2 separate regions of the Homo sapiens genome follow, and region 1 is linked to region 2. Evidence: fine-mapped expression QTL. Tissue or cell type: whole blood. Region 2 holds a variant in brackets; the other region holds the start of a gene. All regions are shown on one strand. Distances are from middle to middle.

What was found. PIP is the estimated chance that this variant, and not a neighbour inherited with it, causes the effect.
Region 1: BCL9L starts here. The variant in region 2 is fine-mapped to the expression of BCL9L in whole blood (TOPMed, PIP 0.98).

Annotation. Positions count from the first base shown.
Region 1 is chr11:118,921,170-118,929,341 of GRCh38, reverse strand. BCL9L (BCL9 like) reads left to right here and starts at 3,416. Exons shown (of 10, transcript NM_001378213.1): 1 at 3,416-4,104. RefSeq lists enhancers at 284-333, 344-623, 634-753, 1,103-1,604, 3,757-4,258 and 4 more and silencers at 2,292-2,351, 3,172-3,311, 3,512-3,561.
Region 2 is chr11:118,892,680-118,900,851 of GRCh38, reverse strand. CXCR5 (C-X-C motif chemokine receptor 5) reads right to left here. Exons shown (of 2, transcript NM_001716.5): 2 at 3,065-7,256. The coding sequence ends at 6,189. It overlaps BCL9L (BCL9 like), which reads left to right. Exons shown (of 10, transcript NM_001378213.1): 8 at 1-233; 9 at 654-935; 10 at 1,344-4,716. The coding sequence ends at 2,437. Among named protein-coding and RNA genes, the nearest start is that of CXCR5, 13 kb to the right of the region's middle. RefSeq lists enhancers at 2,203-2,710, 4,330-5,088. The variant A/G (reference allele first, on the strand shown) is at 4,484.

The DNA.
Region 1 (8,172 bases), 28 kb before region 2:
GGGAAGGCGGCAGTGGTGAGGGATAAGAGTCCCTCCCCCCTGCCCCAGCCGGCCCCCTCTCTCAGCCTCCCTTTCCTGCCCCCACACCTTTTCCAAACTCCTTCCCGTTCCCACCCTGGCCCCTGCTCCTCTATTGGCTCCCAAGTTGCAAGCTCAGGTTGGAAGGGGCCAGGCGGGTCCCACTATCCTGAGAGGCGCTTGTGAATCCACACTCCTCAGGCCGACCCTGAGACCCGCGGGGCACCCGCCCTGCTTCTCTCCGCTTGGCGCCCGCCCCATCCCAGGACCTTGTCCTGGGGTCTCCCACCCCGAAATGGAGGCGTTGCTGGGGGGCGCCGGCAGAACCCGGCAGCAGGCTCTGTGTGGCAGGTGCCAGGCCCTGGGGCAGGCTTCGAGGAGGGGGCAAAGTGTTCCGAGCGCTGGCACGGTTCTGTCCAGCAAGTCTATTATATAATCACCATCTATCAGGAAGCCAGGCAGCTGGAGTGAGTGGGGAAGCCAGGATGCCCGGATCGGCTCTTCCTCCAGGGCCCAGGACGGTGTCGCCACCAAGATGGGGGTGCGGGCGCAGCCCAGCAGTGAGATGATGTGGGGGTCGAGGGGCAAGTGAGGGGCGCTGGGCAGTCAGATGGAGGCCCCACAAACCCCGCCCCCAGACCTCTGACTGACAGTGCCCTGAGCCAATGATTGAAGTCACTGTGGGGCTCTGCGTTAACTCTTTCTTGGGTCCCTATTTGCTTTAGGTGATAGAGTCCTTTTCAGGAACTGTTTGGTCTGGACTCCTCCCACCTTCTCGGGCTAGTGCTCCAGCCGGTGAGGAGTACCAGCTGGAGAATCCTTTTGTCCTAGTAACCCCGGCAACGGGATGCCTAATCTCAGACCCCCAGCAGCCCCAAAGTAAATTGTATTACAAGATACGGTTGTGTGTACACACTGTGCTTCCAGAAACAGCCCCTCGTGGCGCTGGCACACCCACACTGCGTCACGAACGGGCACCCTCACGCACCCATACCCATGCGGGCACTTCCACCGACGAACGCCAACGCTGACACACCTGTGACACCCCTCGTGACACAGTGACACACAGATACACGGAAAGACAGAGGTTCCCCGAGTTGGCCAGTAGAGGGAGCCGCTCGATTCCAGCAAGGGCCCCCTGCCTCTCTCCTTTCCTCCTGGCTCTCTCCAGGGTTCCACCCAGAACTTGTGGCTGCCCAGAGCTCAGCTCCGAATCCCAACCTGGAACCTCCGCTGGGGGAATGAGTCACAGCCCCACCCAGGGGAGCGCTCCGCGTGGCTGCTCCATAGGACATGTATTGTGCACCATTTAAGAGACCCCTGGCAACACAGACTCACTTGCCCCTGCAAACACTGTTTTGGACCTACTACGAACCAGGAATTGTGCCAAAGAGATCATAACAAGCCCCTTTGGCTTGTCATATATGTAAGGGGAGACTGATCCACATAAATGCAGTGGTCCCCTCTAAGAAGCACCCTGTTGGAGAAGTGGGGGCCCATATTATGTCTTTCTGGAGAGGAGATAAGAAATTAAACCTTATTTCCATGGGTCAGGTACTAGCCTAGGTGCTGGGATCTTTCACATTAGAAGCCTCTCTGGGCTTTGGTTTTCTTTTCTTTTAAGTGGGGATAAAATCGACTTCTCAGGACTGTGGTGATTCAACCCCCTAACCCAGGACAGTGCTTGGCACAGCAGGCTGGCACTTGGAAAAGTTTTGGTGATTGGATCAAAGCATCATCATGAGACAACGTGCATGAAAATGCTTTGTAAGCAGTGATGGGACACATGGGGGGGGGTTACTATGTTATCTTCTTTCAGGTTTTTGTCCCCTTCCACCTGTGCCTCCCTAAACCTTGTCCAGTGCCCAGCTGTTGGCACCATCAACCCCTCAAGGCCCTTAGGAATCTTTTGGGGGAAATCAGACATATATATATATGTGTGTGTGTGCATACACCTATACATATATAGGGGTGTGTGTGTGTATATATATATGTGTGTGTGTGTGTGTGACAAGATACAACACATCAGGAAGTACTCAGATGCTATGATGGGATAGGTGGTCAGAAGAGAGGGAGGTCAGTGAGGCTAGAACTATCTGGGGACCATCTGTGAGGAGGGGCAGGGGAGAGGGCCGAGGAAACAGCAGGAACAAGCAGGCTGGCTAGTGTTCTTCCTATCAGACACAGTCAATGCTTGTCACTTGCTATTAATTCTGGGTGGGTGGGGACAGTAGGAAACAGGGAAAGTGCCCTGGGATAAGGAGACCCAAATTCTAGTCCTGGGCTTACCACTTTCTAGCTGGGTAGCTCTGGGTAAGTCCTTAGGTAATGCAAACCTCAATTTCCTCACCTCTGTAATGGGACCATAACCTCTTTCTTGCAGGTTTGTGGTGAGCATTGAAACATGTGAAATGTTTTTAAAAAGCGCTTTGGGCCGGGCGCGGTGGCTCACGCCTGTAATCCCAGCACTTTGGGAGGCCAAGGCAGGTTGATCACCTGAGGTCAGTAGTTCGAGACCAGCCTGGCCGACATGGTGAAACGCTGTCTCTACTAAAAATACAAAATTAGCCGGGCATGGTGGCAGGTGCCTGCAATCCCAGCTACTTGGGAGGTTCAGGCAGGAGAATCGCTTTAACCCAGAAGGCAGAGGTTACAGTGAGCTGAGACCGCGCCTTTGCACTCCAGCCTGGGCAACAAGAGCGAAACTCCATCTCAAAAAAAAAAAAGGGCTTTACATTTTCTTTTTCATTGCCTCGATCGTCCTATAGGGTGGTGAGAGTGTGTGTGTGTGTGTGTGTGTGTGTGAGAGAGAGAGAGAGAGAGAGAAGCACTTTGAGGTTAGGTTAGGAGAGTTCTTTTGAGAAGACAAAGGTTTCACTTCCACAAACATTTTCTTAGCATGCACTTTGTGCTGCTGAGGATTGAGATGAAAAAACTCAGTCTGTGTCCTCAAGGACCTCATGGTCTACTAGGAGAGACATGAATAAAGAGATGCTCAGTGCATTATGGATGTGGGTGGGTACAACGAAGAGGGGACCCAGTGCTGTGTGTGTGTGTGTGTGTGCGCGCGCGTGTGTCCAGGCAACTTCCACTCCTTCCAATCAGTGCAGATAGGAAGGTAGGTTTGTCAAACCTTTCCCTAGCCTGGGATGTTGTTGGCGCGTCTCCTCCCCAGTTCTCAGGAGTGAGGAGGAGAGCAGAAACCCCCCTCCCCGCCCCCGGGCCAACCTGCCTCCCGCTAGCCGGCCGGGCGCCTTACCGAGTCAGACCACTGGGAGGCTGGGGGAGCCGGGTTGGGCGAGGAGGCAAGCGAGATGGGGGAGCTCTTATTTTGACAGGGGCCTCTCCGGGCTCTGGTATGAAGGCAGAAGGAGGCAGCCAGAGAGCCCCGATGCTTATTCAGGCTGGGGAGTGGAGCCGAGTGGAGGGGCAAGCGAGGCTCCGGCAGCGCAGGGGAGCCCGGGGAGGCGGCGGCGCGCGGCGGAGCCAGTGGCTGGACATGCCCCGGACCCGGGGCCGCTGCACCACCGCCGCCGCCCGGAGCCAGCCGGCCGGACGCCCGCACGCCTGGGTCCCCCGGCGCCGCGCCGCCCGGGGGCTGTGACCCGGACCCTCGGAGTCCGACCAACAATAAGCGCCCAGACAGCCCCTCCCCACCCAGCGCCCGGCATTCCCGCGGGCTTTGGGGAAAGGAAAGGAGAGGCGAGGAAGGAAGGAAGGAAGCAAGCAAGCAAGCAAGGGAAGGAGGAGCAGGAGCAGGAGCCGGAGCCCTGAGGTTCGGGGCCGAGACCCCGGCCCCGCGCCCCGGCCCCGGCGGGTGTGCGCGCTCTCCCGCCACTGCCCGGCGCCCGCGACCATGCTCCGCGGTTGGGAGGCAGGAACCCAGGCACCCAGCGATCCCCGGATAGCCTCTCCCGGGCCGGGCTGGTATTGAGATCAAGGCGTCCAGGATCAAAAGATCACCGCCTGCCCGCCCCCTCTGCATCTCCAACTGGCGAGCAGGAGGACCCCCATCCACACAACGACCCTGACCTGGTCATGGCGTCCAGCTCCGGCCTGGCGTGAGGACCCCCCAATCCGCGTGAGGTGAGGGGTGGGCTGGGGGCAAGGCGAAAGTCATGCCAGGCCAGCAGAGGCGCGAGGAGGGAGATCCAGTTTGAATCGGGGAGGGGAAACACAGTCTGATTGTCTCTTGCTCTCTGGCACGTACCCCCAGGCTGTTTAAGGTGTGGGGGACTCCCCCAGGGTCAGTGGAGGCTACTCTTAAGCCCCCAATCAGGTTGGCAGCTCCAGAACACCGTGGGGAGGGCTTAGGGACAGCCAGGGGACCCTGCCACCCTAGCGCAGAGAACAAGGCCGGCCTTGGGCCAGCTGGAGCAGCGAACCTTGCCCTGGGGGCTTCTGGGAGATGTAGTCCCCCTCCCAGGCTCACCAACCCCGTGGGTCTCAGCACCCCAGCCCTCCTCCTCTGGCTGATAGGAGCCTCCAGAAGGAGGTGGGTTGGGACTGGGGAGAGCTGGGGGTCACCCTTTTCTCCCAGGCACTGCCTGTGAGTAGCGGGGGCTGTGACTGAGGAGTCTCTTCTTCCAAGGCTTCTGAGTGATGTGGGCTTGGCTGGGGGGTGGGGCAGTCATACAGTTCCTTGGAAGTGTCCCTGCGCTGCTAAGGGGAGGTGGCCCCTGTCTTGATCCAAAGGAACCCTCGGGGAAGAATGTAGGAAGAGAAGTGAGCTTAGGCTTCTTGTTGCGCTGGGGTAGGTCCTATTCCAGGGCTGCTGGAATTTGGTTTCAGAAGAGACAGAGGGCTGCTCTCTCCTTCTGAGAAGGATAGTGTCCCTTGAAGTCTAGGAGTCTGGAGGGTGTCTCTCTGGAGCAATGAAGCTAGGATCAGCTACTGTCTGTCTGTCCAGCTTCCTTCCTTCCGGGTTTTTCTGACACCCCCTCTCTCCCTTCTCTTTCTGTCTACTGCTTGGGGTGTGTGTCTGTGTCTGTGTCTGTGTCTGGGGGAACCTCTGCTGCGAGGAGAAAAAGTGTTGCTCTGAGAGAGGTGAACTGGGCGTGTGTTTGAGCCCTCACAAAGGGGTTCCAAGCCTCCCTGGATCTTCTGCCCTCACTCCCAGCCTTGGTTTAGTGTGAAAGCTGACTGTGCCCTGTATCTGCTCCAACTCTGCTGCTGCCTCTGAGCAGCTCTCTGGATGAGACCACCACAGTGAGTGGGCTTCCACTGTCTTCTCCTTCTCTTCTTGGTCTCTCCAGGGAGCAGCCACTTCCGGGCAGGGGCTGCCTTGCTCTTCTGCTGCCTCTCAGCATGGGCCGGGCTACCTTCTCCAGGTCAGGACCACAATTTCATGACCCCAGAGGAGGAGCATGCTCAGGCCCTGTCTTCCTGGTGTCAGCTCTGAGGCCCTGCTGATAGAGGCCTCAGGACAGGACAGGGAGAGAATGGGTGAGGAAGGTGAGGAGCAGGGAGAGAGACTGGGAGGCTGGTGCCAGGAAGGAAGGTGCCGCCTCCCCCAGGTGATTTGCCTCCTTGGCCTTGGAGAGCCAGGCCTGGAAGCAGCCTTCTGGCCACCTCCCTCTAGGGGTTCCCTGCTTACCCATGTTGCTCCTGAGTGGGGTGGGGTGATGGTTCACAGCAGGAAGGGTGCTGAGGGGCAGGTAGAATACCTAAAATCTTGGATCCAGAGTGACTCTTGTGCCTGGAGTAGAAGGGGTCCCATGACTGGTGATGGGTTCTGGAGGCCCATATGGAGGTTCAGAATGAGTCTCTACTAGGATGGGGAGTCATGGGACCGGAGAGATACTACAGGGTCCTAGAGAGGGATTGGCAGTCCACAGAAATCTAGCGCCTCAGTGGCAATTTGGGACCTATTGATCTTGCCTGTTGAATCTGTGTTGGGTACCCATGACCCTGCTTAGCTAGTTCCTGCCTTTGGAGTCCTGGTACCTGGGTTAAGCGGGAGCCCTAGGCTGGGGTCTCAACTTCCAGACCAGGCAGGACAGTAGCCTCTGGGCAGGGGCCTAGGGGGTGGCAGTGTCGGCTCAGCAAGGGCTGGAATGCCTGGCACCTGCTTTAGATTAAAGGAGATGCCGAGCAAAGGGGAGCTGCCTGCCTATCAGGGGAGTGACTGCGATGGAGCTCCATGGAGCCCAGGAGTGGAGTGGGAGGAAAGGACCAGGGTTGCAGCAGCAGCTGCCGGGGCAGGAGTGGAGGGAGCCACTGTCACCCAGCTCTGCAGCCCTCCTCCAGGGAGTCCGAGAGCCACTGTCACCCAGCTCTGCAGCCCCTCCTCCAGGGAGTCCAATAGGAGGAGCTGGGGGCACCCCCACACTGCCTCTGGTACCACACGCTGAAGTTCTGTCCCAGGACCCTGGGACAGCTCTGGAGAGCTGGGGTGTTCAAGTTTCCAGTCTTCCCAGAATCAGAAGAGGCCCACAAGGAGGTGCCTGGGAAGTCCTTTGGGGTTCTTGTGGTCCTGCTGCCATGCTGGCTGTTTCTGGGGCTCCTTGGGTGCTGAGAGTGAGGTAGCTCAAGAGCCTGGGCACCCAGGGGTGACAGGGGAATGGCATCCCTTCCTTCCTTGTGCCAGAGCCCTGGGCACTGCCCGGGTGCTGACCTCCGATGGGGGGAGGGGGCAGAAGGGGGATGGCACCGTGGGAAAGTGGGCAGCCGTGGGAGCCAAGCGGGTACAGGCTGGGTGCCGCGGGCAGGGAGCCTCTGCCAGGCCCGCTCTCCCTGGGGTGGGGCCGGCTGTTCCATGGACTGGCTCAACCTGTTGAGCGCCTGGCTGCTCTAGCTCCGCATGTGTGCCCCTGCCTGCCAGCCCCGACAGCTGCCCACCCACAAACACACCGTGGGGGCTGCCCTCAGGGAACTGAGGAAGGGAAGCTCTAACTGGCCAGAGGAGCCGGGATGGGGCTGGTGGGAGCTCCTGCCAGGGCTGAGGAGCCTATCTGAGTCCCAGAGCTGGGGCTGGAGCCAGTTGGAGGGCTGGAAGGCCAGGGCTAGGAGGGGAAGGCCAGAGCACTGCAGCTCCTGAGCTGGTGCATGTCACTTGGCTCGGCGGCCCTGAAGGCTGCCTGGACTTACAGCCTGGAATTTCCTCTGCCTGGTGCCAGGGCCAGGCCTCTGAGCCCCACCCCCAGCCTGGCCTGACCTCCCCTCCCTCCCCTCCTGGGAGAACTCAGCCTGACTTTCCCTGGAGGCTGGGGGAGGGGCAGTAAGGGCATTCTGGCTGCCGTGGGAGGGGCGACTTCCTGGGTGTGGGCATGTGTTACACTGCCTCAGTCTCCCCGAGGGTCCCGCATCCTTGTGGAGAGGAAGAAAGCCTTGGGTTCCCAGGGGGATGCCCACAGCCTGCTCTGAGTGTGGGGGGTCCTGGAACCTGTGGAAGACCCCTGACTCCTGCAGGCCCTTGCCATCTCCCCATCCCCTGTGACCCCTTAGCTTTCCACCCACCTTGGGGCTGTGCTAGCTGGTGGGGAAGGGGAGCCAGGGTGCCACTCTGGAGGGGAGAAGGTGGTCACCACTGCCCAGGAGTAGGGGAAAGGACACAGACAGGTTCCCTCTGATTCTCCATGCCAAGGGGGAGGGGCGGCTTCCCCTGCCTTCTCACTTTTCCTGTCAGTGGCAAAAGCAGAGGCCTCTCCTTTGCAGCCCAGGCCCTCCCTGCTTGGCCCTGGACTGGTCCCCCTCCTAACCCTGGTGTTTTATTCTAGGCCCCCTTCCACCAGAGCTGGGACTCCCTCTGTCCGTTCCCGTTCCTCCTCCAATGGACTGGTAGCCCTGGGCTGGCCCGTCTTCCCCTCCTCCTCACTCTCCACTTCCCCACCCCCAGCCTCAACTCGGAATGGCCCTGAATCCAGCATTTCCAGCATTTCGAAACCAGGATTGTTTTGAAATCCCTGAGTGGTTCTCCACCCCCTGCAGGCTCCCCTCCTCCCCAGAGCATTGCCTTCTAATCCGACTTCACACACTCTGCGCTGCAAGTTTGTGTGTCTGAGTTTGTGTGCTAGCACATGGCTGCGTACTACTTTGTGTGTGTGTATAAGTTTGTGTGTGTGTGTGTCTCAGTGTGGGTGTATCTTCTGTCGGCGGTTCTGTTTGGCAGTTCTGTGTGATTGGCCGATGTCATGTGTGTTTCCTGAGCTCCCC
Region 2 (8,172 bases):
GCCTTCTGCCAACCCGCCAGGACCTCTCAAGTCGCCCCAGGTCCTCGGCTCCTCCCTCAGTGTCCGTTCACCCACTGGCTCGCCCAGCAGGCTCAAGTCTCCTTCCATGGCGGTGCCTTCTCCAGGCTGGGTTGCCTCACCTAAGACGGCCATGCCCAGCCCGGGGGTCTCCCAGAACAAGCAGCCGCCTCTCAACATGAACTCTTCCACCACCCTGAGCAACATGGAACAGGGTGAGTCAATTGCGCAGGCAGGCAGGCAGGCAGGCAGGCAGGCGCTGAGCAGTGTGTCCATGCTGGGGCTGGGCAGTGAGTGAGTAAGGGCCTGTGTACCACGGGCCCAGAGGTGGATGGCTCTGCTTATGGGGCAGATGATGACATTTGTGGGCTTTCTCAGGGGGTACCACGTGAGTCTCCCAGGCATTTTGAGTGATCGTACTTGGGGCCTGGGATCTTCCCCTTGCCTGGGGCCCTGAGGCTGCAGGAATTGCTTGAAGACTGGTGGGCTCTGGAGATAGTGGGGGCCTGTGGGTGTGTCTGAAGGACCAGGTGATTTGGGGAACTGACCGCTTCCTAAACCTCCCCATATCCACAGCCAAACTCATCTGCCCCTCCCCAGTCACCCCTGCTCTCTTTGTCTCCCCGTTTCTGTAGGTACCCTCCCGCCTAGCGGCCCCCGGAGCAGCTCCTCAGCACCTCCCGCCAACCCTCCCAGCGGCCTCATGAACCCCAGCCTACCATTCACTTCCTCCCCAGACCCCACACCTTCCCAGAACCCCCTGTCACTGATGATGACCCAGATGTCCAAGTACGCCATGCCCAGCTCCACCCCGCTCTACCACAATGCCATCAAGACCATCGCCACCTCAGACGACGAGCTGCTGCCCGACCGGCCCCTGCTGCCCCCCCCACCACCACCGCAGGGCTCCGGGCCAGGTGCGAGGACAGGCCAGGGCCCCAGGGAGGCCAGCTGGTGTGGGCACTGGGAGCGGGGAGCACAGCTGTGGTTGTGCTGGCTTTTTTGTGCCTCTGAAGGCCCTGGGTGTGGGGGTGGAGGCTCCGGGATGCTGTTCCCACTCGCTGGAGTCATTAGGGAAACCCAGCCCAGAGCACTCGAGTGGTCTTTCCAACACCTGGTGGTGTGTCTGGCGAACTGGGCCAGAACTTGGTCTCTTGGCTTCTAGCATCAATGCCTCCAGTCCCTTCCCTCCCAGCCAGGGGAAGCCAGTGGTGAAGACTTTGACCTCTGGCACCCCCTGGCTTGGGAGTGGGGAAGGCCTGAGCCCTGCACCCTCCCCGAGCTGGGCACACCGTGCCTGACCCCCTGTCTTCTATTCCCTACAGGGATCAGCAACAGCCAGCCCAGCCAGATGCACCTGAACTCAGCCGCTGCCCAGAGCCCTATGGGCATGAACCTGCCAGGCCAGCAGCCCCTGTCCCATGAGCCCCCGCCCGCCATGCTGCCCTCCCCCACCCCTCTGGGCTCCAACATTCCACTGCATCCCAACGCACAGGGGACAGGGGGGCCCCCTCAAAACTCCATGATGATGGCCCCAGGGGGCCCCGACTCCCTGAATGCCCCCTGTGGCCCAGTGCCCAGCTCCTCCCAGATGATGCCCTTCCCCCCTCGGCTGCAGCAGCCCCATGGTGCCATGGCCCCCACTGGGGGTGGGGGCGGGGGGCCTGGCCTGCAGCAGCACTACCCGTCAGGCATGGCCCTGCCTCCCGAGGACCTGCCCAACCAGCCGCCAGGCCCCATGCCTCCCCAGCAGCACCTGATGGGCAAAGCCATGGCTGGGCGCATGGGCGACGCATACCCACCGGGTGTGCTCCCTGGGGTGGCATCAGTGCTGAACGACCCCGAGCTGAGCGAGGTGATCCGGCCCACCCCAACGGGGATCCCCGAGTTCGACTTGTCGAGGATCATCCCCTCTGAGAAGCCAAGCAGCACCCTCCAGTACTTCCCCAAGAGCGAGAACCAGCCCCCCAAGGCTCAGCCCCCTAATCTGCATCTCATGAACCTGCAGAACATGATGGCGGAGCAGACTCCCTCTCGGCCTCCCAACCTCCCAGGCCAGCAGGGCGTCCAGCGGGGGCTCAACATGTCCATGTGCCACCCTGGACAGATGTCCTTGCTGGGCAGGACAGGCGTGCCCCCACAGCAGGGGATGGTGCCCCATGGCCTGCACCAGGGGGTCATGTCCCCTCCACAAGGCCTCATGACCCAGCAGAATTTCATGCTGATGAAGCAGCGGGGCGTGGGGGGCGAGGTCTACAGCCAGCCGCCCCACATGCTCTCCCCGCAGGGCTCCCTCATGGGCCCCCCGCCCCAGCAGAACCTCATGGTGTCCCACCCCCTTCGGCAGCGCAGTGTGTCCCTGGACAGCCAGATGGGCTACCTCCCGGCACCAGGCGGCATGGCCAACCTGCCCTTCTAGAAGTCGCTGCCAGGGCTGGAGCCGGGGCAATGTTGCAAATACGATAACCTTAACAAAGTTCTTCCCCTCAATGTTGGGATGGCCTGGGTCGCGGGGTGGGGTGGAGGGGGTGGGAGGGGGCTTGTGTAGGGAGTGGCATTTGTGGAAACCAGATGTGCTGGCAGCTTAGGGGGAAGTGGCAGTGTGGGGTGGGGGATTTTGCATTGGGGTTGGTTCCATTTCGGCCACCAGGACTGCCCCTCCCCCACTCCTCCCAATTCCTATGGAGCCTCTCTATTTTACCTCTTTCCGTGCATCCCTGCACCCGCCACACCCCCTTCAGCTATGCTTTTGGAGTCCTGGATGGGAATCTGGGGGGAGAGAGGAAGGACAGGTCAGGTCTCCCCCAGCCCCTTCTGCTCCTGTCTCCTCGTGTCCGCATTGCTGGAGCTCCACCTCCCTCTTGGTTTCTCCGCACCCGCCCATTTTCCTTCTGTCTTTACCTGCTTCGTATCCTTTCCCTGCTGATGTGGCTGACCCCTCTCCCACCCCTCCCTGCAGGCGGCTGGCCAGGTGGGCAGGTGCCAGCCGGAGCTGTAAATAGAGCGCTGCGCTTTTGTGCTGGTTTGTGCGTGTGCTGTATTTCTGTGTTTTGATAGAAGTCACACAAAAAAAAAAGGATAAAAGAAACCCTTCCCCCCTTCTTCAAGTTATTGCTCCCTCCATTCCCCTGGACCCAGGGACATGCAGCCCTACATGGCCACCCACTGTTTGCAGTGTCTCTGGGTCCCTAAGGGATACCATTCCTGTCTCGTCCCCAAATGGTAAGATGACGTAAATGACCCACTCCTAAACTGAGGTCAGACCACCTAGGCTTCCACCTGGTGAGCCCTAGCAGGGCTGAGACCCCCAGGGCGGCAGCCTGTCTGCTGCTGAGTGATTCAGGGAGAACATGTGTGCACGTGCATGTGTGTTTGCCCACACCGGTGACACGGGGCCCTGGCTTTCCACTTTGGATGCCCGGGCATCCGCTGCTGCTACATCTTAGCCAGAACTTGAAGTCTTTTGTCCCAGTTTGGGATGAAGGAAAGGAGGAAGAGGCGGTGGCTGTGTGGCCCCCTTGAGTGGAGCCATGGAAGGGGTGGCATGGTGCCACTGGGGCCTGTGGCTGTAGTAGCCCTGGGCCAGGTAACCTCCAGGGCCCTGACTTTTCCAGAGGCTGCTGCCACCTACTTCTTATCAAAGAAGGGGGAGAACAGTTCATCTGAGTCAGTGCACCTCCCCTCCAGTCTCCACTCCCTGAGGATGGAATCGGGGAAACAGCATCCTGCCGCCTCCTCTCTGCCTGCCCACTCACCGGCAAGGTTGTCCCTCTGCCCAGGGCTCAGGGCCATGTACCAGATCTGTCTGTGCCCACCCAGGCACAGCCACTGCCTCCCCCTTGGCTCCCTGCTCCTACCCAGGAGAGCTCCCTATCCGCCTTTGGTCAGAGCTGAAGCCATATACGACTGGGTGTTTGTCCCCCTACTTTGGCCCCAGGAGTAAAAAAACTTCTCCTTTTCTCACTTCCTTTCCTGCCTCGGGAGGTGGCAGGGCAGTTCCCTGGCTGAGGCCTTTTGCGCCCCACCTCCAGGACCAAGGGCCATTCTAGACAGGGTGTCTTCTACCAGGACCCGTCCCTAGCCTTCCTGGCCTGGAGGGCCTGGTCTTGCACTGGCAGCTGTAATACAAAGGGAACTCGCCCCACTTCTCCCAGCCTGGTGCTGTCCTCTCGGCCCACCATCGGCCAGGTCCAGCGCTTCCTCTGGGGCTGACAACAGGCCCCTGACTCACCCCGGTCACCTCCCAGGGTCCATGGCCAGGGCCTCTGTGTTTGGGGGGCCACTTGCCCTTCATCCTGCCAGGCGCTTTGCCCGCCCTGCCTCAGCCTGGGCCCTGTGCCCTTGAGCCCTCCACCCCTGGCCCAAGACCCCCCCAAACTGTCTGACTCTGTGTTTCCTGCCCTGAGGAGAGAGGGGTCAGATTGCAGCGGGCCGAGTGCCCTCTCCGTCCCCTCTCCTCCCACCC[A/G]CGCCACAGGCCAGCCTACTCTTCCCTCCATCCATGGCCACACCCCCAGCCATTTTGTACCATTATATAAATATATATATAAATATAAATATATAAATACAATATGTGAAGACATCTTCTTGGTTTTTATTTTGAAACAATTTTTAGGCTTGTTCCGGGGGTCTCTGTGCTGCCTGTACTGTATTGACCTGTTTTATAGGTGCCTTTTTATTAAAAAGAAAATTCAAAATCCAGCCTCTTGCCTCTTTGCATCTGCTTCAGACTCCCCCATCGATTACCCAGCTTGCGAGGAGATACTCAGAGAAAAAAGGGACGTCTTAGGGCTTCCTCGTTGTCCTGCCGTGAAGACACTCTCACGTGAGCCACAGCTGTTATTTCCCCAGTGGGGCCTCCCAAGGAGCTTGGCTGCTTGGCTTGAGTGGGACAAGGGCAGGGGTCCCTGACTCCCCACCTGATCAAAGGCTGGGGAGGTGGTAGGGAGCACCCAGAACTGCCGGACGGGCCTCCCACACCCCAGGTGAGCAAACAAGCACGGAGCAGCTTCCTGCGGTTCCATCTGAGTGACATCCTCACGGGGGCAGGGCACGGCTTCCTGGGGCCTGGGGACTTCCCTGCCTCAGTGTGTTTCTTACACTTCCCTGCCTAAGGTGATGCCACGGAGGGGATGGTTGAGATGACTCCCACGGGCCCCTTCCAGTCCACCTTTCTCCGTTCCGACTCTGAGTTTCCTCGGGTCTATAGCTTATGGGAAGGGAGTGAGGAGGGGACAAGCCAGCCTCCTTCCCCATCAATGCCCACAACCTCCCATCCCCTGGACCCAGCCACCCTAGGAGTTCTCCACCCCACCCCATCTCGCCTGGCGGAGGGGACCGCCGGGTTTGATTGATCCATCTCCCTCCTTGGGGTTCGGGAAGAAAGCTCTTTTCTTCCCTCTGTCGGGTTTCTTTCTTGCTTCTCGGCCTTCACGCTTCCTCAGGTCACTGGCTGGCCTCCAAGGGCACCTAGAGTCAGCCCTGCCTGCAGACCACCCAGGATCCGGTGACATGGGGTGGACCCAGCGCTGTTTCGGTCAGAGCCAGGGGCAGCTACCTGAACTCAACCAGTCTGAGCTTCCTGCTTGGTCAAGATGACTGCAGGCTTGGGGGCCTGGCAGAATGTCTGTGTTTTTAGGGACTGAGTTGTCCGAAGGCCACACTCTGCTGCCAGCTGGCCTTTCCTCAGCCTTAACCTCCACTCATCCCCTGGTGCTCAGCTTCTGGCTTTGTTTGACAGGTGGGCAGGAGGAGAGAGGGGAAGCTGTGGAGGTCAGCAGCCCCTAAGCTGATGGAGTGTGTTCTGGGAGGGGCAGGCGCTCTCCGTTGGCAAGGGCAGAAGTAGAAGTTGTTTCTTGAGCATTGGATGATTAGGATGGGAGGTGCGTGAGGTTCTCTCAGCCCAGGGGGGTGCAGATGGGTAAGGACAGCCTTCACTGTGCCTTTGAGCTGCTTTCCGCTCCCTGGGCTCCAGCCTAGCCCCAGGGCCGGCAGAAGAGCTGGCAGGGATGTTCTAGAAATGGGGGTTGGTTCCTCTAGCTACCCCAAATGAGGATACTCCTAGGACACTCTTAGCCACGGTGAGCCCTTAGGATCCCAGCTCCTGTTGGAAGGAGCATCCAGCATCACTGCCTGCCCCAAGGAAAAGCAGCAATAAAAGGGGACACTGGGACCTAGAACGTGGTGAGAGAGGTGGCATTCTCTGACTCAGAGAGACTGCTCCTGCGCCAGCTAGGGAAGAGCTGGCACAGGGAGGCAGGGCCGGTACAGCCCAGCTTCGTCAGGAGCCGCGACAGGTCACTGCGGAACTTCACGCCGGCGAAAGTGTAGAGCATGGGGTTGAGGCAGCAGTGGGCCAGGCCCAGGAACTCACACATGGTGATGGCCACGGGGAGAGAGCCATTCAGCTTGCAGGTATTGTCCACGGCCTTCAGCCTCGCCAGGGTGTCCAGGAAGATGACGATGTGGTAGGGTGACCAGCAGAGGAAGAAGATGCTTGTCACCAGGATGGCCACCCTGACTGCCTTCTGCCGCTGAGGGCGCCGCTGGGCCTGGCGCAACCTGTGCACTACCCCCACGTAGCACCAGCCCATCACCAGCATGGGCAGCAGGAATCCCGCCACATGGTAGAGGAATCGGGAGGTGAACCAGGCATGCGTTTCTGCTTGGTTCTCTTGGGAGAAGGTGCAACGTGGCAGGGAGTTGTTGTGATGGCCTTGGCTGACTTTGGCGAAGAGAATCTCTGGCAAGGCAAGGAGGAAGCCCACCAGCCAGATGGTCCCACAGGTGATGTGGATGGAGAGGAGGCGGCGGTGGCGGTAGGCATGGACGGCGTGGACAATGGCCAGGTAGCGGTCCACGGCGATGCAGGCCAGGAGCAGGCTGCTGCAGTAGAAGTTGACTTTGTGCAGGGCAATCACAGTTTTGCAGAGGAAGGTCCCCAGGACCCAGCCCACAGAGCCCTCGGCCACGGCAAAGGGCAAGATGAAGACCAGCAGGAGGTCGGCCACGGCCAGGTGGAACAGGAAGGTCTCCGTGGAACTGCGTGTCTGCCGGTGCCGCTCCAGGATCACCAGCACCAGGACGTTGCCGATCACGCCCAGGAGGAAGATGAGGCTGTAGGCCACGGGCACGAACACGGCCTTGAAGGAGGCCATGAGGGGCCCCTCTGTGGCAGGGCAGAGATGATTTTCCACCAGGGAGGTGTCGTTATAGTTGTCCAATCTGTCCAGTTCCCAGAACTGCAAGGGCAAGGAGACGGGAGGGTGAGGACCTAAGGACCTGTCTTTCCTCTCTGAGAGGAACCCTAGCTCTCTTGGAGGTTTTTTCCTACATAGGGCCCACTGACCAAATGTCAAGTTTCAAATTTCAATTTTGAACAAATCACTTTGTCTTTTCCAACTTCAGTTTTTCGCCTGTCAAAGGGACCGCATTCCTTAGAGTGGTGGTGCTGATGAAGGGAGGCGTGCGGGTGGCTGAGCTTTGTAAGTGCTGGAGGGCTGGACCCCATAAGTCAGCTTGTGTTTTTGGGTCCTCATGTACGGAAGCCTGCAGCCTTGGCGGCTGGAGTCACAGGACTTCAATTTGGGGAATGGACCTGCTTGGTACAAGGACCCATCTGTTCCAGTTCTGAGCAGAACAGTCGGGCACTGCAACTTAGCATTGTGCTGGGGACTAGGGGCGGGCGGGTGCTGACTTGGCCTGTGGGCTCCCTCCTCATGGGTCTTCCTGTTCCTGACTGTCTCTGTTATCACTGAAATGGCAGTAATAGCCTCCCATCTGGTTCAATATGCACAACCCGCTCAAGGTATGTAATATTATTCCTATTTCACAGATGTGTCTTGCTAAAGATCAGGTTTGTGTGAACCGACGTTTATCTACTTCCAAAGCCAGTACCTCCCACTGAACAACCCTGCCTGGGCTTCCTTCTAGGGGCAGCAGATGCAGGCTCCCTGCTACTTCCCATCACTGGCAACCTCCCTGCAGCTAGGAGCACTCAGAAGCAGAAAGCCCAGAGGCAGAGAGAGGCAGGAGAAAGTGAGGGCGACACGGGGAGACTGGCAGGAGAGAAGGAGAGAGCCTGCTCCAAGTGCAGGGGGTGTGCCCGTGATGTCTCCGGAAGTTCCCTCCTCCCCATCCTCCTCTTCCTCTCCCCAT